Linked DNA regions of Homo sapiens. The protein of the gene in region 3 interacts with the protein of the main gene of each other region in a pairwise test. Each region holds a gene or a part of one and is shown on either strand. Other genes may lie near its edges.

What was found.
Region 1: the proteins of MAGEA12 (region 3) and ABI3 interact in binary tests that used the Homo sapiens proteins (3 or more experiments, as listed by UniProt).
Region 2: the proteins of MAGEA12 (region 3) and KHDC4 interact in binary tests that used the Homo sapiens proteins (3 or more experiments, as listed by UniProt).
Region 4: the proteins of MAGEA12 (region 3) and CLIP4 interact in binary tests that used the Homo sapiens proteins (3 or more experiments, as listed by UniProt).

What each region holds. Positions count from the first base shown.
Region 1 is NC_000017.11:49,206,152-49,213,706, forward strand, and holds the start of ABI3 (ABI gene family member 3), read left to right. Parts: upstream 1-4,555; 5' UTR 4,556-4,573; coding exon 4,574-4,690; intron 4,691-7,555. Other genes in the region: GNGT2 (guanine nucleotide-binding protein G(I)/G(S)/G(O) subunit gamma-T2), read right to left, coding at 606-731, 1,188-1,271. UniProt on the Homo sapiens protein: May inhibit tumor metastasis. In vitro, reduces cell motility.
Region 2 is NC_000001.11:155,924,414-155,931,413, forward strand, and holds part of KHDC4 (KH homology domain-containing protein 4), read right to left. Parts: intron 5,428-7,000; coding exon 5,299-5,427; intron 4,963-5,298; coding exon 4,883-4,962; intron 2,744-4,882; coding exon 2,691-2,743; intron 2,427-2,690; coding exon 2,263-2,426; intron 1,674-2,262; exon of another isoform or gene 1,545-1,673; intron 1,431-1,544; coding exon 1,219-1,430; intron 1-1,218.
Region 3 is NC_000023.11:152,729,411-152,736,767, reverse strand, and holds the start of MAGEA12 (melanoma-associated antigen 12), read right to left. Parts: upstream 3,012-7,357; 5' UTR 2,909-3,011; intron 2,907-2,908; exon of another isoform or gene 2,734-2,906; intron 1,621-2,733; 5' UTR 1,515-1,620; intron 682-1,514; 5' UTR 607-681; coding exon 1-606. Other genes in the region: CSAG1 (chondrosarcoma-associated gene 1 protein), read left to right, coding at 4,308-4,323. UniProt on the Homo sapiens protein: Not known, though may play a role tumor transformation or progression. In vitro promotes cell viability in melanoma cell lines.
Region 4 is NC_000002.12:29,111,112-29,118,459, reverse strand, and holds the start of CLIP4 (CAP-Gly domain-containing linker protein 4), read right to left. Parts: upstream 3,046-7,348; 5' UTR 2,795-3,045; intron 305-2,794; exon of another isoform or gene 99-304; intron 1-98.

The DNA.
Region 1 (7,555 bases), on a different chromosome or scaffold from region 3:
AGCCATGTTCGTCTTGCACACTCTTCCATCCATAGTGCCCAGCACTAACAGACTACTTGACAATATTAAAGAAATCATGAAATCATAACTTCACAAACTCTTGTTGTCATCAGGCCATCTGGGGTGATCTAAATGACTAGGAACAGGACCATAGGGTAGGACATGATATGGAGGGACAGGACCACCCAACCCTGGCCCCCAGCCCAAACTACTCTGGCGTGGAAATGCTTTATTCCTAGGATGAGAGTAGAGGGAAAAGACGGAGGGGTTCCCAGGTGGTGTAAGTGCTTCCTAAGGACTGCCCTCTGGGGTCTTGGGGTATTGCAGGCTTCTCACACCCCACCACCCATGGGGCCAACCGCTCGGCCAGCCACACTGTCCTCAGAGTGTTCCCAGCAAGGTCAGCAGAGACCCAGCAGGTGGAGGAAATAATGGGAGAAAAGAGTTGAAGGTGGGAGTGGGGAATGGGTTCACAATGCATTTGTTCAGGGATCTTTACTCATTCTGTGATGAAGAGAAGGTGACAGTTCACTGGCTCCCTGGGGGTCTAGGAGACTTGGGCTTGGCTGAAGAGGGACAGACACTCAGGGCAGGGCTCCATGCCATCAGCTTATCAGACAGCCACCTTTCTCCTTGAAGGGATTCTTGTCCTCAGGGATGCCTTTGAGAAAAGGATCGTTTCCTGCTTGGGCCTCCACGTACTCCTTGATTTCCTTTCCCGCTTTGGAAATCTGCGAGAACACAAAAAATGTTTTAGGTCCTTGTTACTGTCTCTGGGTCCATGATTTGGTCAGTGCCAGAAAAACAGGCTTCTGGGCAGGGCAGAGACAGGGGCCAAAGAGGAGAAAGACACAGAGGACAGACAGGTGTTCGGGGGTGTGAGTTCCTTGATCTGACCCACAACACTGACCCTGACCTTCATGGGCTGCTTGGCCAGAGCCAGCCCAGACACAGGGCTGGACACGCTGAGCTCTCCAAGGCCCTGAAGCTCTCTCCTGTGCTCAGGGAGGCTGGCACCTTCACAGGGTCAACCCCAGCCTTTCTCTGCATCCTACCCCATCCCAGAGGTACCTCCTGCTGCTTCTGCAGCCCTGGAACAGTCCCACCACCCTTTCTGGTCACTTCCTCCTTCCCGGGGCTCATCAGGAACAGGAAGGGAAGAGCAGGGACGGGGCGAGGAGGCTCACCGGAATTCTTGTGTTTTTCACTTCTTTCTTCAGCTGCTCCACCTCCATCTTCAACAGGTCCTTCTCGCTGAGATCCTGGGCCATCCTGCCCTAGACAGACCTGATCCTGGAAAGGATTCAGCAGCCAGGATCATAAATCTCATCAGCTCTTCCAGCTCCCTCCACACCTCGACTTCTAGCATCTTCCCTGCCATATCCCTCAGTTCAGGCCCCTCATCATTCAACAGATATTCACTCCATCCTTGCATGCCCTGCTTCTTCAAGAGTCTGGGCTCAGGAGGGGAGGAAGCTCCCAGTCTGATGGGGGAGGCACCATTTTTGCCTTTGGATTGTCTGTCTATGGAGGAAATTTGGATTGTCTGTCTATAGAGGCATCTGTCTGTCTGTCTACAGAGGAAACAGAGAAGAAAGAAAAAGGAGTTTCTTTCAGAGAGGAAGATCTGGGAAGCAACGTTATTGTTTCATATAGTGACTCAGAGTTTTCCTCTTTCTCTCCAGGTCCAGCAAGGGAGAGTATACAATAATGGTCAAGAGAAGGGGGTCTTGGCTGGGCGCGGTGGCTCACCCCTATAATCCCAGCACTTTGGGAGGCCAAAGTGGGAGGATCGCTTGAGCCCAGGAGTTCAAGATCAGCCTGGCCAACATGGCGAAACCTCGTCTCTACAAAAGATAGAAAAATTAGCCGGGGTGATGGTGAGTGCCTATAATCCCAGCTACTCGGGAGGCTGAGATATGAGAATTGCTTGAACCTGGGAGGCGAAGGTTGCAGTGAGCTGAGATCATGCCACTGCACTCCAGCCTGGGTAACAGAGAACAACTGTTTCAAAAAATAAAAAAAGATCCCAGGCACTGTGGCTCATGCCTGTAATCCCAGCACTTTGGGAGGCTGAGACAGGCAGATCACCTGAGGTTGAGGGTTCGAGACTAGCCTCGCCAACATGGTGAAACCCCATCTCTACTAAAAATACAAAAATTAGGCAGGCGTGGTGGCGGGCACCTGTAATCCCAGCTACTCAGCGGGCTGAGGCAGGAGAATCACTTGAACCCAGAAGACGGAGGTTGCAGTGAGCCGAGATCACACCACTGCACTCCAGCTTAGGCGACAAGAGTGAGACTCCATCTCAAAAAAAAAAAAAAGAGAGAGAGAGAGACAAGGGGGTCTGGAGCTTACCAGACTCCAACTCTGATCTGCTGCTTCCTTACTGCTTTCTCAGTGTGGCCTTAGGGAAGTCACTCAACCTCTTTGAGTATTAGTTTCCCCAGCTGCAAATGGGTATTAAAAAAACCTACCACATGCAATTATTGTGGGTACTAAGAAAATAATGTCTATAAAATATTATAATATACTACCTGGCACATAATGAACACTTAATACACTTATTATTATCACTAATAATGCTATTGTTATTATTATCACTGCAGGGTTATCAGGAAGGCCTTCCTGGTGCCTAGCCCCAGTGATACTAAGAGTAGATCCCAGCCCAGTGCAACCTCAGCCCCTCTCACCTGCCACAGAAGAGCACACTCTCCAAGTCACTTGTCCTGGACTCAGGTAAGATAGTGTTTGAGCCTCCTAGTTCTTCATCAGCTGAAAATCTTCAGATAAAGCAGATGGCCTGGAAACCAAAATCTCTGATGCCTAAGCTGATCATAGGCTCAAAGTTCTAAGCCCATCACCCGCTTGAGCCTTCAAGCCCTCACTACAGCAGAGCAGAGAGACAGACATTCTCCCCACAAAAACAAACGCGAAAACAGAAGCCACCTTTTCACCACCTTGCCTTGCGTTAGCCTCACACTTTTGGTGACCTCACTAGCTTAGAGCCCGCAGCGCTTCTATTTCTCCACCTCCACCCTGCAGCCCCACTTACCCCGCTTCGCCTGCTTTCTCCTCCTTCCCTTCCCACCTCTGAGCATGCTCTGAGGCTGTCCTTCCTCCTGAGGCAAGTCCTAGACCGGCCCCTAACCTCCTTAACCAAGATGCTTTGTGTTGCCCATTGGATCCCCACAGTTTCACCTTACGAAGTTCTCCTAGCTCACTCTTCATCCACTCATTCAATAAAAATGTCCTTGCTCACCAAGCTGTGCCACTTAGTACTTGGGGCGTGGCCACCTCTAATGCCTCTGTTCAAGCTTCTTTGCTGCCATGCCTCCCTCTGAGCCCTGAATGTGGGTTCCTGAGCACAGAACCCACATCCTGGTTTTTTTCTTGCTGTCCCCCCAGGACCACCCAAGGGCTATGCCATTTAACAGACATTGAGCTCCTGCTCTGGTTGACACCCATCCAATGACAAGGGACCCGCTGGAGGAGCAAAAGTTAAGGGACCAATATGGTCAATGGGAGGTCCTCTTATTCTCCTGTCTCTAGGATGACAGGCTTGGTGGTGGGAGGGGCAGAGAGGAGGCCCGCCGTCCATCCTAACTTCCGTGCTCCAGGACCCAGTCCAACTCTCAGCTGGGAGCTCTAAGAATTTGAAATCAGAACAGGATCCTGGAGGTTGTCTGGTACAACTGTCCTGTTAATGCGTGAACCACAGCCCATACCTCCTAGGCAGGCTCAGTGCTCTGTCCACCGCTGCTTCCTAAAACCGCAAGTTGATCTGAAATTTGAACCTGGTGCTTCTCAAATCCAAGTCCTTCCTGTTGTCTAATCTGAGTCCCTCACATTACGCTTGGTCAATTTCATCTTGTCCTGCCTTCATCTGCACAGAGCGTGTAGGGCAGATCTTCATCACACACAACCCTTCGCAGGCTTGCTAACACCCCTCTGGCAACCTCTCTGGTCATGTCTTCCCGGTGTCCAACCCTGACCCCTCTTGCTGCCGCATCGGCTGTTTTCTATTTTTGCTGTGCTGCTGCCCCACAGTCCTCTGGTATGACGGATCTCCATATCCTATCCACCCTCCACTCCCCTGTCCCTTGGTGACTCATCCCTGAGCTTCCCAAGGAAGCCCCCACCCTCTGCCCTTTCCTCCCGCCTTCCATGAGTGGAAAATCCACCTCCGCCCCCTATAGCAGGCCAGCCCCCTTCCTCCCCAGTCTCCGACCCCATCCCCCAGCCGACCAGTTTCCTCTCCAGGACCAGGGAGCAATCACAGCTGCCCCGACCTTGGCTTCCTCTGCTGGGTGGGATTGGGGGCTGGGCCCCCAAATGGGCCCCTGGCTTCCCCCTTCCTCTGGGCAGGGGACAGAGAGACACAGGCTCGGGGAGCAGGACTGACTTCCTCTTGTCCCGGAATGAGCATGCCTGCCCTTTGCAAGCAGGTTTGGGTCTCACGCAGAGGAAACCAAAAGCAATAAGAGGGAGGGAAGGCAGAGCAACCAATCAAGGGCAGGGTGAGACTCAAAACGAGCGGGCTCCCTGGGGAGCCAGACAGAGGCTGGGGGTGATGGCGGAGCTACAGCAGCTGCAGGAGTTTGAGATCCCCACTGGCCGGGAGGCTCTGAGGGGCAACCACAGTGCCCTGCTGCGGGTCGCTGACTACTGCGAGGACAACTATGTGCAGGTAGGTAGAGCGGGCGGAAGCCTGACACCCCAGCCCCCGGAGGGGGGACCCTGAGCCCTGCCCCAAGTGGGGCCCTGGGACCCATCCTGACAGTGCTTGTCCTGGGCCTTGGCTGAGAAATCCTCCCATTCCAGGCTTCGGCTTCATCCCAGACCCCAATACTTAACCCTGACCCCATACTACCCAAGCCCCCACTGTGCCCCTTCTGTCTCTCAGAGCCTCAGAGATGCCTGGGACAGACAGTGCGATTCCATCCTGTTCTCAGGTGTCACCTCAGGTTCATCCTTCTGAGTTCCCACGGGTCAATCCAGAGACCCAAAGCCTCCGTCCTCACACAGATGCTGGCGATCATTCTATTTCCAGGCCGGCTCTGGGTGAGGCTTCAGAAGAACTTCCCAAACAGCACAGTGAACCTGAGATGGACAAGGGAAAGGGGCTCTTTCCCTGAGTTTGGGAAAGGGAGAGTGGGGATAAGGCAGAGTAGGCTGGGCTAAAGAGAGGGGATCTCATGCAGAGGCAGGGGGATGGCCCACATAACTGCTGGGAGCAGGCTTCTAGCAACAGATAGGGAGGTGGCATTGTAGAACAGGTTTTAAATTGTGTGGTTGTCCTGGGGCTGAGAACATAGATTCCTGGATTCAGGGAGGAGAGGCAAGGCAACTGAGCCATGATGGAAATCACTTCTGTTATTTCATTAATCTGTACAACTACCTTGTGAGACATGTATTATAATTCCTATTTTACAGATGTGGAAACAGTAGCTCAGGGAGGTGAGGTGACTTGTCTAAGGCCACACAGCTCCAAACAGCAGAGCCAGGCATTCCTTTTTTTTCGCTCTTGTTGTCCAGGCTGGAGTGCAATGGCTCGATCTTGGCTCACTACAACCTCCGCCTTCCGGGTTCAAGAAATTCTCCTGCCTCAGCCTCCTGAGTAGCTGGAATTACAGGCATGCACCACCATGCCCGACTAATTTTATATTTTTAGTAGAGACAGGGTTTCGCCATGTTGGTAAGGCTGGTCTCGAACTCCTGACACCTCAGGTGATCCACCCGCCTTGGCCTCCCAAAGTTCTGGGATTACAGGAGTGAGCCACTGTGCCCAGCCAGCCTTTTTTTTTTTTTGACGGGGTCTCCTCTGTCACCCAGGCTGGAGTGCTGTGGCATGATCATAGCTCACGTAGCTTCACTGAAGCCTTGAACTCCTAGGTTCAAGCAATCCTCCCACCTCAGCCTTCTGAGTAGCTGGGGCTACAGGTGCATGCCACCATGCCTGGCTAATTTTTTAAATTTTTTTGTAAAGACAGGGTCTCCATATGTAGCCCAGGCTGGTCTTGAACTCCTGGCCTCAAGTGATCTGCCCACCTTGGCCTCCCAAAGTGCTGGGATTACAGGCATAAGCCACCACATTTGGGCTTCCCTGAATCCTGATGCCAAGCTCTTTCCTCTCCATCTTTCTGCCTCCCTACACGCTATGTGACTTTACGACAGTTTATTAGCACTCTCTGTCCCCGGTTTCCTCTGCTCCCTGAAGAGCTGCAGACTAACCTTGTTACCCCTTGGGCAAAACTTTATTTTTCTAACCTGTACTAACCAAACTATGAGAACAGGCACAGGGACCTTGTAGCATAGTAAGAATGTTGAAAAAAGAAGTAAATGAGTAACAAGTGCTCATGGGAAATGGCAGATTAAAGACAGTCAGTAATGACAGCAGTTAAAATGCTCTGGACCCTTCTTTTGGGCCAGGCATGTTACCAGCATGGCCTCCCTTCATCCTCATCTGAAGTCCGGTGAGGCGAGTCCCATGCCCACTTCACAGTGAGGAAGCTGAGGTTTGGAAAGGTTAAGTCACTTTCCCAGAAGTCTCCTAGCTAGTGTCAGAGCCTGAATTCAAACGCAGAAATCTGATTCCAGAGCCCACTCCCTATGCCACTAACTGAAAATGCTACTCTGGGTATCATTTCGGTCTGTGTAGATGTTGAGTGACCACCTGCAGATGAGACAGAATGAGGCTTGCAAACCAGCTCATTCTCCTAGCATGGAAAGGCATGTTTCCTCTATGGACAAGGATCCAAGCAGTCCTTTCCATTCCTTCCATAACTTCTGCACACCTCAAAGAGCTTCCACAGGGCTCTCATTTGCACACACAGTGTGCACACACAATTTGGGGTCGCAAAGACCTAAGTCAAATTTCCAGTTCTGCCACCTACCAACTACAGGAACTGTGGCAAGTTTCTCCTCTGATTCTCATGCCTGCCTTCAGTGGTGGCTCCATGGATTCAATATAAAAATGTATCAAAGCATTCAGCCTAGTGCCAGCCCCTTCAGAAGAGCAGGATAAATGGCAGCTCTTACAATGACCATCACTACCATTCATTGGAAGGATGGATAATAAGAATCAGTTCTAGGGAGGAGAAGCTGTCCTTGCAAAAATATGCAGGGCATGAGAAGCCCTGACCCAAGTTGGAATCCTTGGACTCCTGCTTCCTTCGTGCAGAGTACTAACTACTAGAACACACAACTTGTTACCTTTCCTGGCCTTTCTGAGGATCTTTATCTAGGCAAATGCCTAGGAAGGTTCTGGATCTCAGAACTTCTGTTACCTAAGGCCTGATTCCCCTACCCTCCAACCCCACCTGCAGCCCCTCTCTCCCCACACCACCCAGATGCTAGGAAACCCATGGGGAATTAGGGAAGGCAGACCAGGGTCACCTGCAGAGTTCTCAGCCAGGGTTGACTGAGTTTACAGACACGGTAATTTGCATGATGAACAAGCACTCAGCCGCAGAGATGGATCTCAGACACCTGTCCCTGCGGACCTAACTTTGGGCTAAGAGCAAAGCCAGGGGTCGGTAGGTGTTCAGGCTGC
Region 2 (7,000 bases), on a different chromosome or scaffold from region 3:
GTATTAGCCAGGATGGTCTCAATCTCCTGACCTGATTCATCCGCCTCGGCCCTGAAAGTGCTGGGATTACAGGCCAAGATTCACTTTTGTACAGACTTGTACAAAACCAAAGGACTTGAATACTAAAGAGATAATTCCGTCTCCTAATTCAATAATTTCTCTTTTTTTTTTTTTTTTTGAGATGGAGTCTTGCTCTGTTGCCCAGGCTGGAGTGCAATGGAGCAGTCTCAGCTCACTGCAACCTCCGCCTCCAGGGTTCAAGCAATTCTCCTACCTCAGCCTGCTGAATAGCTGGGATTATAGGTGCCTGCCACCACACCTGGCTAATTTTTATACTTTTAGGAGAGTCAGGGTTTCACCATGTTGGCCAGGGTAGTCTCGAACTCCTGACCTCAAGTGATCCGCCTGCCTCGGCCTCCCAAAGTGCTGGGATTACAGGTGTGAGCCACCGCACCTGGTTTTTTTTTTAAGACAGGGTCTCACTCAGTCACCCAGTCTGGAGTGCAGTGGTGCAAACACAGCTACCTGCAGCCTTAATCTCCTGGGCTCAAGCCATCCTCCTGCCTCAGCCTACTGAGCAGCTGGGATTAAGGTGTACACCATAACACCTGGCTAATTTTTTTTTTTTTTTGAGATGGAGTCTCGCTCTGTCACCCAGGCTGGAGTGCAGTGGCGCAATCTCAGCTCACTGCAAGCTCCACCTCCCGGGTTCACGCCATTCTCCTGCCTCAGCCTCCTGAGTAGCTGGGACTACAGGCGCCTGCCACCACACCCGGCTAATTTTTTTTGTTTTATTTTTAGTAGAGACGGGGTTTCACCTTGTTAGCCAGGATGGTCTCGATCTCCTGACCTCGTGATCCACCCGCCTCGGCCTCCCAAAGTGCTGGGATTACAGGTGTGAGCCACCGTGCCCGCCTAATTTTTAAAATTTTTTTGGAGAGATGGGGTTTTGCTATGTTGCCCAGGCTGGCCTCAAACTCCTGGGCTCAAGTGGTCCTACGCCTTGGCCTCCAGAAGTGTTGGGATTACAGGCATGAGCCACCGTGCCCCAATTCTACAATTTCTTTAACTAATTATAAAGTAATTACTCCTAGCATTTATCTAAATCCCTCATTACTATTAATTACACCCAGTTTTCTCTTGCTCCTTCTGAATCACTCCTGACTGTACCAACAAGTTGACAAGAATTCACATGTCCCCTGCCCTATCCATCCATACCTGATGTAAATATACATAGGTTCAAAAGCTTCTCGGCCAGATGCTGGCTCAATGCAGCCTGAACCTTTGCCCCGCAGGAAGACTTTGGCACCTGTTTCAATCTGAATGTGCTGCAAATAGGAGCAGCCTGGACCTTCCACCTTCTCCTTGACATTAAAAGTGGGTACAGCATGTTCTAGACCCACAAATAATTTATCTTGAACATAATGCATCTGTAGGAAGAACAGAATACTTCAGATTAAACAGAATATATAATTAAATCCTCAATCTTTGAAATAAGTCAATAAGAAATTATAGCAAAGACAGTCTCCTGTAAAACTGGGGTAGAGTGTTGGGTAGTACAGTCAGCCCTGTGATACTCTTCAGTGAAGGCTGCTCTCTCCAACCCTTTTTTCTAGGAGGAATGTATCAGCAAAGTCTTACTTCATCAGACTCAGCCTTCTTAGTCCTCCAGTTGTCATCAAGTTTACAAATACAAATTAAAACCACTAACTTCAAAATGTACAACATGTATACCTTCTGCTCTATCAATCTCCTTTCTAGAATATATCAATATGAAGAAATGTGTGATCAGGTGTTCATTATACCGTGGAGAGCTGGATAACACACAAACAGAATACCTATGGCAGGTAACTTTCGGGATTGGAATTTGGAATTTCACGATTTTTTTTTCTTTGTATGTATTACTTGGCACTTTTTTTTTTTTTTTTTTTTTTGAGATGGAGTCTTGCTCTGTGGCCCAGGCTGGAGTGCAGTGGCATGGTCTCAGCTCCCTGCAACCTCCACCTCCCGGCTTCAAGCAATTCTCCTGCCTCAGCCTCCCAAGTAGCTGGGGTTACAGGTGCCTGCCACCATGCCCGGGTAATGTTCGTGACGGGGTTTCACCACGTTGGTCAGGCTGGTCCAAATTCCTGACCTCAAATGATCCACCCACCTTGGCCTCCCAAAGTGCTGGGATTACAGGAATGAGCCACTGTGCCTGGCCAGCACATATCATTTTTATAGAAATGATAATGCTATTAACGATCCCTCCCCAAAACATACCCCTGACTGGAAGGGAGGCTTCTGGCTAACAGCTGGAGACAACTGAGCGATGGGTGCTGGCTGGTGATAGACAGTTACTGTTGCACCATTAAAAGTTGGACTTGTTCCTGTGGCAGCTTTTACCACTCCATTGGTGATAATTTCTTTGATCCGGTTTACAGCTCCTTAGAAAAACACAGACAGTAAAACTGAATGGAATGAACTGACTAGTGCCCAGGCAGGCCAGTGTTCAATTATTCACCGTAAATCTGCTTTATACGTTACCCAAATATGTGGCTCTCCATCCCTCTAAACTCCCATACAAATTCGTGTATAGTTCATGAACAAGGGTTAGAACAGCCATCAGGGACACTTTGCCAACTTGCTATACAGAGCCCTGTACTTTGCTCTTCACAAAAAGTGCTACGTGAGCCAAAAACATTACTTACTGTCCACTAATTCCCGTGTCTGGCCCTGAACATGAAGATATAATGGACGATCCCTATAAAGAGAAACAAAAAAGGATGATCTCAATGTGGTCAAAACCAAAAAAGGAGTCAAATGGGTCACCAGATCTAATTTGTAATGTTTCAAGTTTCCAAATAACCAAAAGGGACTATATACATTAGAAGGGTTTTTGCTAGCTAATGTCTCAGAACATGCTTTAACAGCTGGGGAACAAATAAACTTCTTGATTTTAAAAGTCAACTGGCCCACAGAGTTCAGATCAAATCTGTTCTTATGGATTCACTACCATTATTTTCCAGTCTATTGAGATAACCCAATATTTAAGAACAGAATTCCTTTTTGCTGGTTGTCTAATAGGTTATAAACAAATGTGGTCTCGTCTATCCAAATCAATGGGGCAAGCTGGGTGCTGTGGCTCATGTCTGTAATCCCAGCACTTTGGGAGGCTGAGGTGGGTGGATGACATGAGGCCAAGAGTTTGAGACCAGCCTGGCCAACATGGCAAAACCCCATCTCTACTGAAATTACAAAAATTAGCCGGGCATGGTGGCACGCCTGTAGTCCCAGCTACTCAGGAGGCTGAGGCACAAGAATCACTTGAACCCAGGAGGTGGAGGTTGCAATGACCCAAGATCATGCCATTGCACACCAGCCGGGGCAACAGAACAAGACTCTGTCTCCAAAAAAAAAAAAAAAAAAAAAAAAAAAACCACACACACACACACACACACACACACACACACACACACACAAAATTAATGGGGAAAGATTGATCATGCATATAGAGAAACCTCTTAAGGTCTACATCAACTGATAATTTAGATTCTAAATGTGAAGAGGACTTAAATTATAATAAAGTGATCAATAACCATATATAGTTAATAAAAAGTAGCAGGTAAAAATAACTTTTTAAAGACAAAGTTCAAAACAGCAATCAACACATATAGAAAGTTTAAATACATTCTTGGGGCTGGGCACGGTGGCTCATGCCTGTAATCCCAGCACTTTGGGAGGCCGAGGCAGGGGAACCACCCGAGGTCAGGACTTTTGAGACCAGCCTGTCCAACATCGTGAAACCCCATCTCTACTAAAAATACAAAATTTAGCCGGGTGTGGTGGCGCATGCTTGTAATCCCAGCTACTCGGGAGGGTGAGGCCAGAGAATTGCTTGAACCCAGGAGGCAGAGGTTGCAGTGAGCCGAGATGGCGCCATTGCACTCCAGCCTGGGCAACAAGAGCAAAAACTCCTTCTCTAATAAATAAATAAATAAATAAATTCTTGGCTTGGGGTAGGAATTAAATTTTGCCACCTTATTTTGTGTAGTTTAAGCTAATGTTAAAAATGTTGCATTCCCTAAGTACCTATCAACTGACAGTGAAGAGAAACTCAAACACGGAATGATGGAAGGAATAAAATGAAACAGATTAAGTCTTTACCTGAATAATCACAAACTATAACCATCATAAAGACAAAAAAAAAAAAAAAAAAAAAGAGCCCATTTGTGAGGGGAACTATTTCCACAGAAAAAAGTTAAGAAGTATATACAATGCCGGGCGTGGTGGCTCACGCCTGTAATCCCAGCACTTTGGGAGGCCGAGGGGGGTGGATCACAAGGTCAGGAGATCAAGACCATCCTGGCTAACACGGTGAAGCTCTGTCTCTACTAAAAATACAAAAAATTAGCCAGGCGTGGTGGCAGGTGCCTGTAGTCCCAGCTACTCGGGAGGCTGAGGTAGGAGAATGGCATGAACCCAGGAGGCAGAGTTTGAAGTGAGCCGAGATCACGCCACTGCACTATAGCCTGGGCGACAGAGCAAGACTCCATCTCAAAAAAAAAAAAAAAAAGTATATACATTATTTCTGCAGATCATATGGAACAGAAAGAAGAAAAAAGAGTATATACATTAAATGTTAGTGGTTAGTATCTTCTTTTACACTTTCCTATAATTTGTTTCCTCCAATAAAAACATTAAATGTGAAATAAAAGTCCAAAAACAGGTCCCAACATCTTGTATCTGTTTGATATCCAGAATTCTGCTATAGTGTGCACACACATACCCCTCAAACCTTGAATCAAATATTGTGTACACGTATTACCTAAGGATAAAAAACATGAGGCTAACGTGAGTCATACACCCAACCCTTCCATAAACAAGATAAGAGAATACGCACCCTGGTCCCACTTTGGCTTTTTCCTCAGTTGTCATGAACCTCCCTCGAGTTGATACTGCAGCCCCACTAAGTCGGCTGATCTAAAAAAGGAAATGTTCAATTAAAAAAATGTGGCAATTGGTTGATTTCAATGGCAGACAGATTTTCTTCCCATTCATTCATTCAACCAAGTAAAGAAGGAAAGAATTCTCTCCTGTATCTGAAATTTTGATTCCATGGTTTCTTACTCAAACCAACCCAGAGAATTCATTTATATCCATTCCATTATCTTCCTCTGAAGTTAAATTAAACCCAATCCTGACTTTAGAGACTATGACCCAAACCCACTAATAAATATCTGACGCCTGTCTATTTAGAGGTCTTCTTTATCTGAATCCACTCACCGCCCTCCCCAAAGAGTCTCAATGCCTCCTCACCTCGTCTTGAGTCTGTCCTCGAGTCAGCAAGTTCCTACATGTGAGAGGCACATCATTAATTTCTACTTCAGCTACCACCAGGTCATCCTTGCTTTTATTGCTAGTTAGGCCTTTGCCAGGAGCCTGAAGCTAGAAAAAAGAGAAATTAGATTAAAAAGTTTTTATGATGAGATAAAGTCTATTTTTTTATTTTATTTATTTACTTATTTATTTTTTCATTTTTTTGAGATGGAGTCTGTCGCCCAGGATGGAGTGCAGTGGCGTGATCTCAGCTCACTGCAACTTCCGCCTCCTGGGTTCAAGCAATTCTCCTGCCTCAGCCTCCTGAGTAGCTGGGATTACAGGTGTGCAGCACCATGCCCAGCTAATTTTCGGATTTTTAGTAGAGACGGGGTTTCACCGTGTTGGCCAGGCTGGTCTCGAACTCCTGACCTCAGGTGATCCACCTACCTCGGCCTCCCAAAGTGCTGGGATTACAGGCGTGAGCCACTGTGCCCAGCTGAGATAAAGCCTTTTAGTCATCCAATGTACAACTATCCTTTCCCAAGTCCCACACCTCCCTACCCTTCCCTTCATCTGCCTGTAAACACAGTTGGTCATTCTTCATAAACGAATTAACAAGCAAACAAAAATCTCACTAAAATGACATTAAATAAAGTCAATAATAAAGTCAATCTGCTTGAAGGCCACAATCAAGATTTCTCTGTGACCTTGGCCCTATGTGCATTTTTATGACCACCTAATTACAGAAGCTCTAGGGACTAGAAGCTACAACCTTCAAAAAGAAAATTAAAGGGCCAAGTTATGATACTCTATAGCTCAGTTAGTTGGCTGTACATGGAGTAAAACACAATAGAAGGTAGAGGAGCAATGCCTACAATACATATACCTCATGCATACAATAGGAAGTTGTCTTTGTGCCACTCCTATAATCCTAACATAAAATCCAACTAACTCCATCCTTGTAAAGCTCTCAAAAACCCTTAAATTGTATCTAACTAATAATTCCTCACTCTATTACAGCAGAACAAAGAAGAATGAAAAAACAGTAAGATGGTAAAACCTGATCCGGTTTCTTTCAATTTAAACTACATGGAGTTTGTGATCAGCCTGGTCAACATGGTGAAACCCCGTCTCTAGTAAACATACAAAATTAGCCAGGTGTGGTGGTTCGTGCCTGTAATCCCAGCTACTCCGGAGGCTCAGGCAGAATTGCTTGAAGCCGGGAGGCAGAGGTTGCAATGAGCCGAGATCACGCCATCGCACTCCAGCCTGGGCAACAAGAGCAAAACTCTGTCTCAAAAATAAATATATAAATTACAAAAAAAGGCTGGGACCGGTGGCTCACATCTGTAATCCTAGCACTTTAGGAGGCTGAGGAGGGTGGATCGCTTGAGCCCAAGAGTTTCAGACCAGCCTGGGTAACATGGCAAAACCACATCTCTAAAAAAATACAAAACATTAGCTGGGCACGGTGGCATGAGACTGTAGTCTCAGCTACTCAGCAGGCTGAGGCAGCAGAAAGCAGTGATTGTGCCACTGAACTCCAGCCTGGGCAACAAAGCAAGACTCTATCACCAAAAAAAAAAAAAAAAAAGACAGAAAGACAGAAAGAAAGAAAGAAAGAATGAACGAAGGAACCAAACAGGCTCATGCCTGTAATCCCAGCACTTTGGGAGGCTGAAGCAGGGTGGGCAACATG
Region 3 (7,357 bases):
CAGGAGGCCTGTCTTGGGCACGATCTGATTGTCGCCCAGCAGGCCATCGTAGGAGAGGCCCAGGCAGGTGACAAGGATGTACAAGTGGCCGATGCGGACCACTTCCACCACCTCGATGCCAAAGACCAGCTGCAAGTACTCGGAGGCTTTGCTGAAGATCACAGGAAAGAAGTCCTGGAAATTTCTGATGACACTCCCCAGCATTTCTGCCTTTGTGAATGGCTCCCTGGCTCGATACTTGAGGAGCAGAAAATGAACCAACTCAGCCATCTTCCTACTGAGTGCTACTTGGAAGCTCGTCTCCAGGTCAGGAAAGGTGCTTGGCCCTTCCTGTTCTTCGTTGCTGGAGCCCTCATCGGATTGACTCCAGAGAGTATAGTTGATGGTAGTGGGGAGGGTGGAGGCTCCCTGAGGACTGTGGGGAGGACTTGGTGACTCGGCAGCAGGCACCTCCCGCAGGGTGACTTCCACTAGAGTAGAGGAGGAGGAGGCAGTCTCCTGCTCCTCAGTAGCAGGAGCCTGCGCACCCACCAAGCCCAGGGCCTCTCCTTGGGCCTCAAGGCCTTCCTCAGGCTTGCAGTGCTGACTCCTCTGCTCAAGTGGCATGATGACTCTGGTCAGGGCAGCAGGTAGGAGTGTGGGCAGGAGCTAGTGCTGCTCCGGGGCCTGTCTCCTCAGAACCTGAAGGAACAAGTGAGAGGGCGCCTCAGGGTACAGCCGGCCAGCACATGCTGAGGCTGAAGGAATGACAGTAGGGAGGGTGAGGCCAGGCGCTCTGGAGTCCCATGTGTTCTGGGGCCGGTGCGGCCCTTGGTGTGCATTCAAGGCAAACCTTCAGTGTTGGCACTGTCTGCACCCCCTCTGCTCTGTGACCTCAGGACACTGCCTCAGACCAAGGCCTCACTGCCTTGTTCTTGGAACTCCTGATTCCTGGGAGAGGAATCCATGGGCCTCAGGGTGCAGACTGCAAGTACAGCCACAGATTCCCAAAATTGTCAGGAGGGTCGGCCAGACTCTGTGAGGTCCCCACTCTACTGGGGTGGAGGGTCCCTTCTGTGCTCACTCAGGGCCCTCACCTTTCTCCTTGCAGGGCCTAATACCGCCCTTTTGCTGGCCAAAGAAACTCTCATGGCAAGAATTCACATCCCTGATACGGTACAGAAGGACATGAGGGGACCAACATCTGGCCATACATAACCAGATCCTCCCACAAAGGACAATGAGAGATGTCCAAATTCATTGGAGTCCAGGTGTCCTGGGTGACGAGCCTGCTTGGTCCTCACCACTACTCCTGCTAGGGCCTGAGAGCCTCCCTCTACTGACCTGAGTGCAGCCCCTTCAGACCAAGGCCTCCCTTTCCCTGACATCAAAGATCCCAGGATAATGGAGGGACCTCAGCAGGTAGCCTTGCCCAGGCTCTCTGAGGGAATAGCAGGGGCAGGGCAGATTTCTGTGGGGCCCTCTGTCAGCGTTCTGGCCCAGGGGTACCCTCAATCCTACCTCAGGCTTCTCACCTGGATGCTTGGTAGATCTTAGGACCACTGTGTCTGTCGACTACATGGGGGCCCCTGTGTTGACCTGAGTCACCCTCTGAAGAAAAGGTCCTCAACTCCCTGAGATCTGGAAACAGAAGTGAGGAGGAGCCACATCCTGTCACTCCCAGGTAGGTTGTCCAGGGCTGACCCCTTTGGTTCTAGGGTGAGGCTTCTGATGGCCTCCTGTGGGTTACTCATCTTTACTCCTGCCAGGGACTGCCCTTCCTCAACCCCCAACCCCCTGAAATGAGCAGACAGCTCCTCTTTACACCAACACCTTATCTCCCTGAGGGTTCCCCAACCTCTTGCCTGTGGTACAAATGACATTGCCAATTGGAGCTATCTCTGATCGGGTTCCCTTAGAGCTAAGAATAAGGGACAGCCAGACTCTGTGGCATCCCTTCTTTCTGGGCCGGGGGTATCCCCAGTCCTCATGAAGGGGGCACACCTTGGGTCCGGCAGATCCTGGGATTCCTCCCTCTGCTGACCTGAAGTGCCACTCCTCAGACCACAGCCCGCAAATCTGTCACCCTGAAGTCGCAATGAGCATGGGGCACATTAGGCCACTGTGCCCAGGATCCCCCAGCCCAAGGTTGCCACTGATCTGGACTCCAAGGTCCCCTCAGTCCTCCCTCTTCTTCCTCCCCTTGACTCCTCGCAGGGCTGGGCTCCAACTCCCTGCTGAAGTGGGTCTGTATCCCTAGGATTCCCGCGGCCGAATGAAAAGGTGGCTCAGTTTGAGACAGGGGTACTTTGGGCCCCTGTCCTGGCATGCTGGGAGCCCTCCGGACTCCATTATCTTCCAGGAGGGGCTTGGGCCCATCCTCTGCTTCCCAAAGGCCGTACTCACGATACCGACCCCCTTCCCTCCCTGAGCCACAGATGTGAACGTCAGGATCCGCGTGCTTGGCCGCCATTCCCGGAGCTTCCGTGGGTTGATTGCAGGGGCAAAGCTCCGATTCTGCCAGGATGGGTGGGGATGGGAATCGGGGTTTGGGGGTCCCGTTGATGTTTGAGCGATGGTGGTGGGTTTGGTGTTGGGGGATGGGGGTGGGGTTGGTGTTGGGGGATGGGAATGGTGGTGGGGGTGCGGGGGGTTACCCTCAGTCCCCTCTTGGGGTCCTGACCTTGATTCCTGGCTGAGTCTGGGCCCTGAGCACTTCTAACCAGCCCTGCCCTGGTCACACAAAGCTCTTACACCAGAGTTCCCTGCGGTTAAAGCGGCGGGGGGTGGCGGGGTGAGGTGGTGGCGACTCAGCCTGAGAAGTCTTCCCCTGCAGGGTGGTCCAGGCCCGGCAGCAGAGGCAGCGCTGGATTATTGGGGGCCCTCTGTCTGGGGTGAGGCCCGCCTCAGTCCTCCCTCGGCATCTTACCTTGCCTCCTCACGGAGCCTGCGCCTGCTTCCCTCCACCGACGTCAGGCCGTTGCTCAGGGCGAGAATCTCGCTGTTCTCTGACCTCCAACGCGCAAGTCAGTGGCGTCACATCCGGCCCCGTGACTTCCCTGGGTTCACAGCAGGGGTGGAACTGGATTCTTCCTGGATGGGGATCCAGATGGAGGTGGAGGTAAGCATGAAGATGGTGTTGGGGGTAGGGGTAGGGATAGGGACGGGGATCCTGAGGCTGTAGATCCTGGTGGGGTTGGGGGAGTTGGGGGTGGGAGGGGCCTTTGGTCATCCCTCAAGGTCCTGACTTGGATGCCAGGCTGAGCCTGGACCGCCATCCTCTGCCGATTGTGTCTGCTCCCCTCAGACCAAGTCTCTGACTCTGAGTCCCCCTGAAGTGGCACTGGGGGAGGGGTGTGGTCGGGGTGACATTATTGCCTAAGTTTACCAGGGCTGACAAGAGGGACTGAGCTGGATTCTGTGGTCCCACTACGTGGGGGAGGGTGGACCCTCAGTCCTCACTCAAGAGGGTCCTCTTCCTCACTCCTGGCTGTTGGATGAAGTGATTGGCAGGAGATACTCTGTTTCTGTAACGTCTGTGCATTTGCACAGCTGCACCCCTTGTAGAGAATGGCTGCGGGTCCCAGGCCAGGAGCTCCCTGCAGGGCGGGAGCTCCCACGATCGTATTGACCTCTGGAAGAAGACAGACACTTTCCCACGGGAGCTCCTCTCCAGCCAGAGCTACACTTGGCAAACCTTTGGTCCTAAATGATTTATTCACTGAATTGAAGAAATACGGTTTACATATCTTCCAAGTATATATGTAGGTAGCGATATATATATTTATTTCTACGAACTAACACCTACCCTTAGTATGCATCGTTCACTCTTACTATCCTAATCTACTTCTATTCCAGTCTTTGTGTTCTGTTGAAGGAATTTTTTTTTAAACGTAATTCCTCTCCCACTATGTTGGTTTCAGGTTGTTATTAGCAGAACTCTGGAGCCATGCTGCCTTAACAAACCCAATTTTCCTGGTGTCCTGCTATTACCTAGGGCTCTTGGCATCGTGTTTTCAGGAGCTGCCTCAGATTGTGCAATGAAGTGAAGTGGAAATTTTAAAACTTTTATTCTACCCATTCTGTTATCTGCCGTCTAGGCAGGCTACAAACCTCCCCAACATCCCTGCCGCTAACCCCCTCTAACCGACACGGCAAGTGTCACACACAAGTACCAGCTCAACAAGGTCTTCAGTCTCACCCTGGACTGGCCCTGTTTTGTTGTGTAGATTTTCTTGCTAATACTGGTTTTTTACTTTCTGTTTCCATTCTATAAATTTACAGGGTTGATTTGGGAAGCAGAGCACAGCAGCCCAAATTTGCTTGTAATGTCGGCGACTACAGGTAAGGCACTAAATTGTAAATAATTTAAGCTGAGTTTACATTTTTACACTGTTGTGTTCCCCATGAATGAATATGTTATACTCCTCTATGTATGTCAAGCTATTTTTTCCTGAATATGTCAGTATACTTCGATAGTTGCCTCTATAAGCAGCTTATACATTTTTATTAGACTTCTATTCAGGTAATTCTTGGATTTTATTGCTATTGCAAATGGCATATTGTCTATTAATTGCTGTAGTTAGTTATTGCTTTCGTGAGGTGAAGATTTTGATTTTGCTGTAGTAATCTGTTGCACACCTCATTCTGAAGGCCGATGCACTTGAATATTCCACATGCCTTTTCCTTTGAATTTTCAAGATCGATAATGGTATTATCACTAAACATTACATGTTTTTCCAATATTCATACCACTTACTCATTTTGATACTTATAGCTTTTTGTGTCTCAATCCTGATTTCAAACGTAGAGATAATAGGCTACATCTACTTCTCGTTCCTGACTGGAATGATAGTTCTTCGAACATTTGACATTTAAGTATGTTTGCTGTTGATTTTAGGAAATGGAAGTGCTCTTTGAATATAGGTTAAATAAATATTTTCTTTTTTCCATAAACTCATTAAATGTCTTTAAAAAGCTTTTTCTGTACCCTTTGACAGGATCAAATTTTTTCTCCTCCATTTTGTATGTAAGGAATTACAATGAAACCGTTTTTTTTTTTCTGATGTTAAATCATATGTTATTTCCTTGGGCAGAGCCTGTCTATTTGTTTAATATGCTACTAATTTAGGTAAGGTATTTACTGCTAGGTAAGGGAGCTTACTTGGTGTGTTCTTTTTCCATCGGGGAGGGATGTGGTCCTCATCTGATTTTGAATCCAGGAGGGCTAGTCTGGGAGAATGAACTGAACAATTGTCAATCTTTTGTATGTTTTGGAAGAGTTGATATAAGATGGTGGTTAGTTTTCCCTGATCATTTGGTAGAATTGGCCTCCAAAACTGCCTAACCTGGAATGTTTGAGGGTGGCTTGAGCTTTGAATATTGTACAGTTTCAGTTTGTATAGTTTAATTAAAGTTTTCTTTTTCTTTTTGGATCAGTTTGGTTACTGATGTATTTTATTTCTATGAAGTGGTCAGTTTCATTTAGGATTTCACTTTTAATGGCATATTTGTGATAAAAAACGTTTTATTAGGGAAAGCCTTCACACATACAGAATAACAGAAACTAATATTATGAACCCAGGATACTTGATACCGAGCATGAACAACTTTAAATACACAGCAAAGCTGGTTCCAGTTAGACACTTGCCTACCTGCATATGAGCTTCTGTAATAACGTGGAGCCAATCTAAGGCATTAGACCATTTCATCTCTAAACAATTTAACATGCATTTTAAAGGAAAAGGACTTTTTATTAAACAAAAACCCAATAGCATTGATATCTAAAAAATTAAATAAATGATTATCAAATGTTCAACTATTTTACAAACTTATCTGGAAGACATATACTTTATAAAATATATATTTCTTTGATGAAGTACCCAAATATGATAACTTTCCCCCCACTTGCTTCACTGTGGTGGTTTCATACATCTATAATACAGCTAGGTTTCTGTGTGTGTAACATTTTACATTCTGTTCTGTGATTCTCCAACCTCTTAAGTTACTTTTAGACGTTACATACATTAAGCTTCACTCTTTGTGCTGTAAAGATCTATGGGTTTTGACAAATGCCTCTTGCCATTGTCTTAGTCCGTTTGGGCTTCCATAACAAAAATAGTGTAGACTAGGTGGCTTATAAACAACACAACTTTATTTCTCACATTCTGGAGGTTGGAAAGTCCAAGATCAAGGTGCTGGCAGATTTCATGTCTGGTGGAGTCCTGCTCCCTAGTTCCTAGACACCTGCCTTTTCCCTATGTCCTCGCATGGAGGAAGGGGCAAGGGATCTCTGTGGGGACTATTTTATAAAAACACTGATCCCATTCATGAGGTCTCTGCTCTCATGAACTAGTCATTCTCCAAATACCCCACCTTCTACCTAATACCATCACCTTGGTATTTCAGCAGATGAAGTTTGTGGGAACACAAATATTCAGATGAAAGCAAGCACGGAACCACCATTACAGTATTACCATACTAGTTTCACTGCCCTGATAAATCCCCTGTGCTTGTCAGATAACCCCCTTGGCTGCCACTGATAGGTTTTTCATCTTTATAATTTTGCCTTTTCCTGAATGTCATATAAATAGACTCGTATACTATGTAGCCTTTTTAGACTCGTTTCTTTCTAGACTCGTTTCTTTAGACTCGTTTAGCATAATGAACTGAAGAGTCATGTAAAACTTTGTGCAGCTTGTAACTTATTCCTTTTCATTGAGGAGTAGTAGTATCATTGGGTGTACCATATTTTAATGCGTGTGTGTGTGTATGTGTGTATATATATATATATATAATCCATTCACCAAATGAAATACATTTTGGATGCTGCTATTTTTGGTGATTGTGAAATAAGCTATTGTATACATTCATATACAAATTTTTATGTAGACATAAGTTTTCAAATCAATTGGGTAAATTGATTGAGTATGGCTGCTGAATCTTACGCTAAGTCTATGTTCCGTTTTTTAAGAAAACGCCAAATTGTCTTCCAAAGTGGCTGTGCCATGTTGCATTTCCACGAGCTATGAATGAGAGTTTCTGTTGCTCCACATCTTCCCTGGCAATTGGTCTTGGTTTTGTTTGCTTTGTTTTGCTTTTTTATGGATTTTGGACATACTAATAGGTGTGTAGTGGTATCTCATTTTAGTACACAATTATCTAATGACAAAACACGCTTAGTACATTTATTATGCTTATTTGCCATGTGTGTATCTTCTTTTGTGTAGTGTGTGTTCAGATCTTTGACTATTTTCATTTTTTTCTATCGCTGAGCTTTAAGAATTCGCATATATTGTAGAGACAAGTTCTTTATCACATATGTGTACCGCAGATGTTTTCTGCTAGTCTGTGGCTTCTGTTTTCATTCTCTTAACAT
Region 4 (7,348 bases), on a different chromosome or scaffold from region 3:
CAAATTCCCCAAACTCTGATTTCTATAGGAATTTCACCCTACTCATCACTCCAAGTTAGCTGTTAGCAAAAGCATCTTACATAACGTGGCTCAAATACCTTGTGATTTTTTTTCCAAGACTCCTTGGTCCATGCTTTAACACAGAGCAGTAATAAATGGGGATGTCCACTAGCATCTTCAGGCTGGTTCAGGACTGTCTGGACCCCATAAAAGGGCCTTACTGAAGCCAGGAGACTTCAGATTTGAGATATGGTTCAAGAGTGTCCTTGAGTTATTCAACTAATAGGAGACCAAAGCTGTGTCTACATTAGCTGGAATCATGAGGCCCTTTCATTCAATTTCCTGTAATACTTTGTTATGAGTCATCATTCTCCTGAGATTCCAATCTCACCACGTAAGTATTTAAAGCATAACTCCAATGATCCTTTTATTTGCTACCTACATAACATCTGTACAATCTACTAAACAGGTATTTACAGTACTGAACACTTAGTTGGCCTTAGAGAGAATTAAAAATTGAAATACCTGCCCTGAAAAAGCTATTTATGCATTTAACAAATATTTATTCAGTTTTTCTTACTAAGTTCTAAGCTATGCAAAGGTAAAGAAACCAGATCTGTCCTTGCCCTCATATAAATTACAGCCTAGTGTTGATTCCTACCAGAAAGTTGAAAGTAGTAAGTGCTATGACCAAGGACAGCTGAGTCCTATGAAAGCACAGATTCAAGAGGGTCAACGAAGGCTTCCTGGAGACTAATAAGTTAAAGCTGTGGCATCTGACCAGCTAACTACTAGCCACATGTGACTATTTAAATTAATTTAAAAATTGGCCAGGTGCAGTGGCTCATGCCTGTAATCCCAACACTTCGGGAGGCCGAGATGGGCAGATCACTTCAGGTCAGGAGTTCGAGACCACCCTGGCCAATATGGTGAAACCCCACAGCAAAAATTAACAGGGTGTGGTAGCAGGCGCCTGTAATCCCAGCTGCTCGAGAGGCTCAGGCAGAACAATCGCTTGAACCTGGGAGGCAGAGATTGCAGTGAGGAGAGATCAGGCCACTGCACTGCAGCCTGGGTGACAGAGCAGAGCGAGACTCCGTCTCAAAAAAAAAAAACAAAAACAAAAAAAAGAGAGAGAGAAAAGGAAAAGAAAAAAAATATTAAAATTTCAGTGCTTCCACTGCTCTAGCCCCATTCAAGTGGTCAAAAGCTATATGTGGCTAGTGCTACCATATTGGGTAATGCAAAAAGAACATGTTTCTGGTCTCCGAAAGCTCTTCTAAACAGCACTGAAGGAAAACAGTGCAGCTCACTCTCCAGATGAGAAAACAATATACAAATGCCTGAAACAAGACACAAATAAAGGTTAACACACTAAAGCAAGCCTATAGCTCCATAGTTCATTATAAATAATTAACAAGGGAGCAGTAAGCCTAAAAGTAACCAGAGTTTGAGGTTTGAACAGGGAGAAAGAGTGAAGTTGATTTTATATAATCTAAAGATCACTAGTTTCAAACACGTGTCAAAATTGGAGTTGTCATAAGCTATGAGAGACAACATAGGTCACTTTTTTAAAAGCCCTTGCTGGTGGGACTGTATGTGGTAAACACAAAATGTCTGAAATGAATCCTACAAATAGAATACCATGGGCTAAATCTTCTACAAAACAGAAGTAAACACATTCCATGCATGGCTAGACTCAATCTTACAGTCCAGATAGACCGTATCAAATGAAAGCATTTAAAAAATGCATCATATTTACGAAAGCAAAATAAGCTGGAACCAGGATGGTTCTCCAACATAAAAACGCAGACCAACTAGACTCCAGCAGGTTCAAGTCTCTGCTTTCCTCCCCAGTTGCTCAATGCCCCGCACCACGTGATCCTGTGCTGTTTAGACGACTCACTTTAAATTGTGCACAAGATTCACAAACAACAAACGTCAAAGTGAAAGTGAAGTACAATTTAAGTGCTGGCGGATGTTCCTGAGGAAGGTGTTTACTGAAACCTTTCAAAGGCGCCCGTTTTATACGATGATGGTGCTACAATATGAACGCAGTCTAGTATCTCAGAACATACAGCAAGTTATTGTCCCATAGGAACATCATCCTCTGATACGTATCAAAACACTGTCTCAGCACAGAGCTGAAAACCAGAGTCTGGATGACGTGAACAGCCTGACATCTAATTCAAAGCTCTACCATCATAAGCAGTGAATGGGATCCTTAAGGATGCGGGCTCAGCTCCAGCGCTCCTTTCAACTTCCCCTCCCAGGTGCGGATGGTTCAGAATTAAGGGATCTCAGGTAGCCAAGGACTGCAAGGACAGCCATTTGGTTTAGCTTTGAAGACCCACTGGCCAAAGGTTTCTCGACAATTTAATGCGCAAGGGGAGTCAAGTGAGAAATGGGAAGAGGCCGCGTTGGAAAGCCACTGCGCGTGCGGGGACTCTCGGGGCAGCCGCGGCTGGCGGTCGTGGCCCAGAGCCCAGCTCCGCCGCCGGGTCCCGCACACCCCGCGCCCCTCAACCTAAAGTTGGGCCGTCCGTCAGCGGCCGCCACGAGGAGTCCCCATCCCCGCCGGGTGGGCCGCTCCGCCCCGAGAAGGCCTCCCCGCGGCCAGCGACACCGGTGCCCACGGGAGGCGGCCGCGGGGCTTCCACAGCCCCCAGCGCCTCTGCGCGACCCTCCCGGGGCCACTGACCTCCCCGCGGGCCCCCAGGGCCGCCCACCCCGGCCCCAACCCCGCCGCCGGCCAGCCCGCGGCCCGGGGGGGCCCCGCGCGCCCCCGGCCCACCTGCCTCCTCCGGGTCCTCTCGGAGCGGCCGGCTGGGGACGCGGGGGCGCGGAGGAAAGGCCGAGAGGCGCGCTCCCGCCGGCGCTGTCTCCCGTGGCCGCCCACGGAGCCTCCCGCCGCGCCGCTCCACACCTCTCCGGGCCCCTCCCGCTGCCTCCCACGCGGGGTGGGCGCGCGCGCAGTGCAGGCGGCCGGGCGGCGCGCAGGCCTCGGCCACGGCCCCGCGCACGCGCTGGGGACTCGGTGGGGACGGAGGAGGCAGCGCGCGCCTGCGCTGGCTCGCCTGGCTCCCGCGCCCCCGCACTCCCCAGCAGTCAGATGATCGGGCGCACGCGGGGCCGCGACCCCGGCTGACAGCGTCTGCGGGGTGTCGCAGTGTTACCTCCCCCGCCGCGAAGCCAGGCGGCCCCGGCACGCCGTGCGTGCCCACCGCCTTCACAGCCCTCAGCCTCGCGGCCTCACGTCTCTAACCTGCGGCGCCCCCACCAGCTGCTGGGGCCGGGGACCTAGTCTTACCCGTCTTGGGCTCCCCAGAGTCCAGCCGAGCGTGGTCAAGAGTACATCCACCAGTTCCCTGCTGGCAGCGCTTGCTGTAAAAGGCCTAATCCGTGCTACACCCACGTTGAGCAATTAGTTCATATCTCCTGCGGCTTTGCTGCCTCTTCACCCACGTTTTCTCCTGACCCCTTCTCCGTCTCCCAAGGACCAGACAGGGTGAAACTGTGCACCTAAAGTCGTGAACTCTGACAGCCTGACTCTCTGTCATCTGGTAACAAGAAAGCGTTACTGGACACATAGTGAGTCCCCTTAATGAGGAGACCTAGTAAGACCATGACCGAAGTTTGAAACATGGAGACAACAGTGTTACATCTATCAGCTGTCTCTGAGGCCTACAGCGGCTGCTTCATAGAGGCTGTACTTCTGTGTTCAGCGCGCACAGTGCCTGGCAGGAACAGATGTTGAATGAACGTCTGTCAGTGTCTCTGCAAGAGCAGAGGTAAGCGCTCACCGCACCCCGGAGCATCTTTTCCTGTTAGAATCATTGATTTCAGGGACTGGAAAAAGCCCCCTTCCCACTTGCCTGAATCCTCCTTACAGTGTCTTCCCACCAAGCAGTGGTTGAACACCTCCACTAACAAGGAACTCATTACCTTTTAAGGCAGCCATTTAATCTTTGATCAGCCTTTTGGAAATTTTCTACCTTAGGAGCTAAAATCCAGCTCCCTGCATCTCTCCCTCACTGGATTTTGTTTCTGCCCTGGGGACTCTTAAGTCTGACTCCAATTCATCCAAGACACACATTACCTGTCCCTTAGGCTACTCCTGATATGACCTGGTCACAATCCCACTCACCAGCATGTTGAGGGATTCTCTTGGATGCATTCCAGCTTGTCCAGAGCTCTCTTAAATGTGATTATCAGGAATGAGTGGGTGGCCTGCCAAGTGCGGAGAGGAAAGAGACTGCCACCTCTTCTTAGGTCCTATGCTTAACAACATTCACCATATCAAAATAGTTGCTAGGAGCAGTCACATCACATTGTTGAATCGGGTGGAGCACACTTGACTAAAACCCACAATATTTGAATACATGACCATCCCTGACCCTGGTCAGCTGCCAGTTTCTCTGTCTCTGCAGGCTCAGCATCTGCGAGTGCTCTCAGAGATAATGTGACACGGATACTTCCTCCTCCCTCTGAAGAGTCCACCTCCCTTTCCCTGCTTTCATCATACCCTCTTCTTGTCTGACCCACCCATCTCTTTAGCTGGTTAAAAGAAGGAAGGCAATCTGCCCTTGGTTGGCTTCAAGCACCTATAAATGAGGCCAATTGTCATTGAACCACAGAAAGTCATAAAGATCTGTGTGTAACAGAGTAGCTATTGGTGAAGTTTCCAAACGTATACAGTTCACTTTTATTGCTGATTTAAATTATCCATCTGAAATACCACTATTAGTAGGTGACAAGGCATGGCTAGCTCAGTTGTTCTTAGTTATAATAAAGATCTCTGTTAGAACCAGCCAGGCCACTGGCTTTATCTGCTACACCCAAACACTGTATGATACATAGGCAAATTCCCAGGATACCAAGCCACCAGAGTCTCCCACTCACTTAGTTGCCTTTGTTCAAAAATCTGACGTTACTTCTTTATACCATCATCAAGAATGCAAGTGCTCGTTGGAGTCATGCTTCCTAGAATACCTCGTGACATACAAGCTTTAGAACCAGGTATTGCCCAGTTAACCAGAGTGAGACTGGACAATGATATGTGGCCAGAACTTGGAACTTGAACTATTCATTGGGGTGGGAAGGCACATGGGGATGTGGACCAACTGTAGCTGCTGAGATTCAATTCTATCTGGAGACACAAAGTTCCTGAAAAGTATAGCAATAATCCACAGCGTCAGGAGGTGATCAACTTACTGGTCAACATCACAGTGTGGAGAAAGGGCATTACTCACTGACCACTGTAAGGCACTTGACCTATGGAAATCTTGTCTTCACTTTACAAATGAAGAAGCAGACTCTGGGAGGCTGCGTGACTTGCTCCATGTAGCCAGGGGCAGAAATAAGATTCAAACCTAAGTCTGTCTGATCTGAAGGCCTATGTTGATTCACTACTTTGCTAACCTACACAGGCTGTCTTTGGGGGCATTAAAGACCCAGAATGGCTGCATAGAGCAGCATTCAGGAATTCAGACACTCGGCAGCAGGAAGATCTGTCAGCAGCTCTCAGGACCCCGACCATGATAAAAGGGTTAGAGGAAATAGCAAAAGAAGACAAGGTCACTGCTTTTACATGGACTGGATATGGGATGGAATATCATCAGTTTCTAATTTGTGAGTGTATAGGGGGCCTAGGCCCTTAGGACCATGAGAGACACCCAACTGTCAGAATTGGGGCACCAGATTGGAGTTCAACTAGCAGAAGTGCTTAAATGCAAAAGATCAGAGCACTGGGCAGAGCCCCTAATATCTTCCTGTCTGTGATGTTTACAGGTGTGATCATCAGCATAAAAAGCCCAACAGAATCAACAAAGTATTAGAAGTAATGTTAGCTCAGCAAGGTTGCCAAGTACAAGATCAGTTTCTAAAAATCAATAGTTTTGTCTACATCAGCAGTAAGCAACTGGGAAATGTAACAGACAATAAGAAACCATTCACAATAACAATAAAGTTTAACAAACTCTAAAGCATAATATCCAGGAATTAACCCAACAACTTGCAAAAACTTTAAGGAGAAAATTTTAAAACTCTATTTAAGGACATAAAATATTGAATAAGTGGAGAGATACAGCATGGATAGGATGACTTTACATTGTAAAAGTATCCATTTAGTCTCCAAAGTAAATGTTATGGCAACCAAAATTCCAGCAGAAACTAAATTTTTAGGGAACTCAACAAACTTACAAAATATATAAGGAGAAATAAATTTTAAACAGTTAAGTCAATTATAAAAACCAGAGCAGACCTGCCATGCCAGATATTATGTCATTGCCACATAGTAATAAAAATATTATGGTACTGGTATAGGAACACATAGAGCAAATAGGAAACAGAATGAAGAACTCAGGAGCAGACCCACGTATAAATGCTACCTCCATTTACACAAAGGTGGTACCACAGATCAATGAGAAAAATATAAATTATTTAGAAGACGGCATTCGGGAAACTGGCTTTAATTTATCAAGGAAAAATAAAGTTGAGAGCCCCATGTTCTGCCATATACAAAGGTGAACTCCAGATAAATGGCAGACCTACATATGATACAAAAGAAAATGCAGGAGACTATCTCTATAATGTGGGTTAGGAATTTACTTCATAAAACAGGTTTGCAAAAGCACAATCCTTGAAGCAAAAAAAAATTGTATGACTTGACTGCATCACAATTAAGGGTTCTGTTCAGTTAAGAATACCATAGAAAAAATTAACAGATGGCTGACAAATTGGAAGAAAACATGTGCTATGTTCAAAAGCAACTAGGGATTAATATCTGAAATGCATGAGGAACTTTTCACAAATCAAAAGGAAGTCAATATAAAATATTTTAAAGGCCAATATAAAAATGAGAAAAGTATAAGAATAGACAATTCACAGAAGGAAAAGCCAGAATGGCAAGCAAGCATTAAAGAGATGCTCAACCCCACTTGTAATCAGAGTGGGAATATAAAGAGTGTGACCCCATAGCCACCAATATGCTGGTCTATGTTTTAAAACCCGCTCCCCAGGGAAGGAAAAGTCCTAACGTACAGTGTTTGCCAATTTCCATGGTGCAAATACTCTGAGCACTGCCAGTTTCCAGCTACCAGTGTAGCTTGAGGTCACTGAACAAGAAGTTGGGAAGAAATGTGCTTTATCAGCTCTCATGAACTGTTTTCAACACACCACTGCTTCACCCACCAGCATGGCAGAAATCAGAAAGATAATCCCAAATATTGGCAAAGATCTGGGGAAAGATGCACTGCTGATGGAAATTTAAACTGGTAAATATATTCTGCAGATCAACCTGGCAGTGCTTAGTGAAAAAAATTAGCAGTATGCTTTATGACTCAGCAGT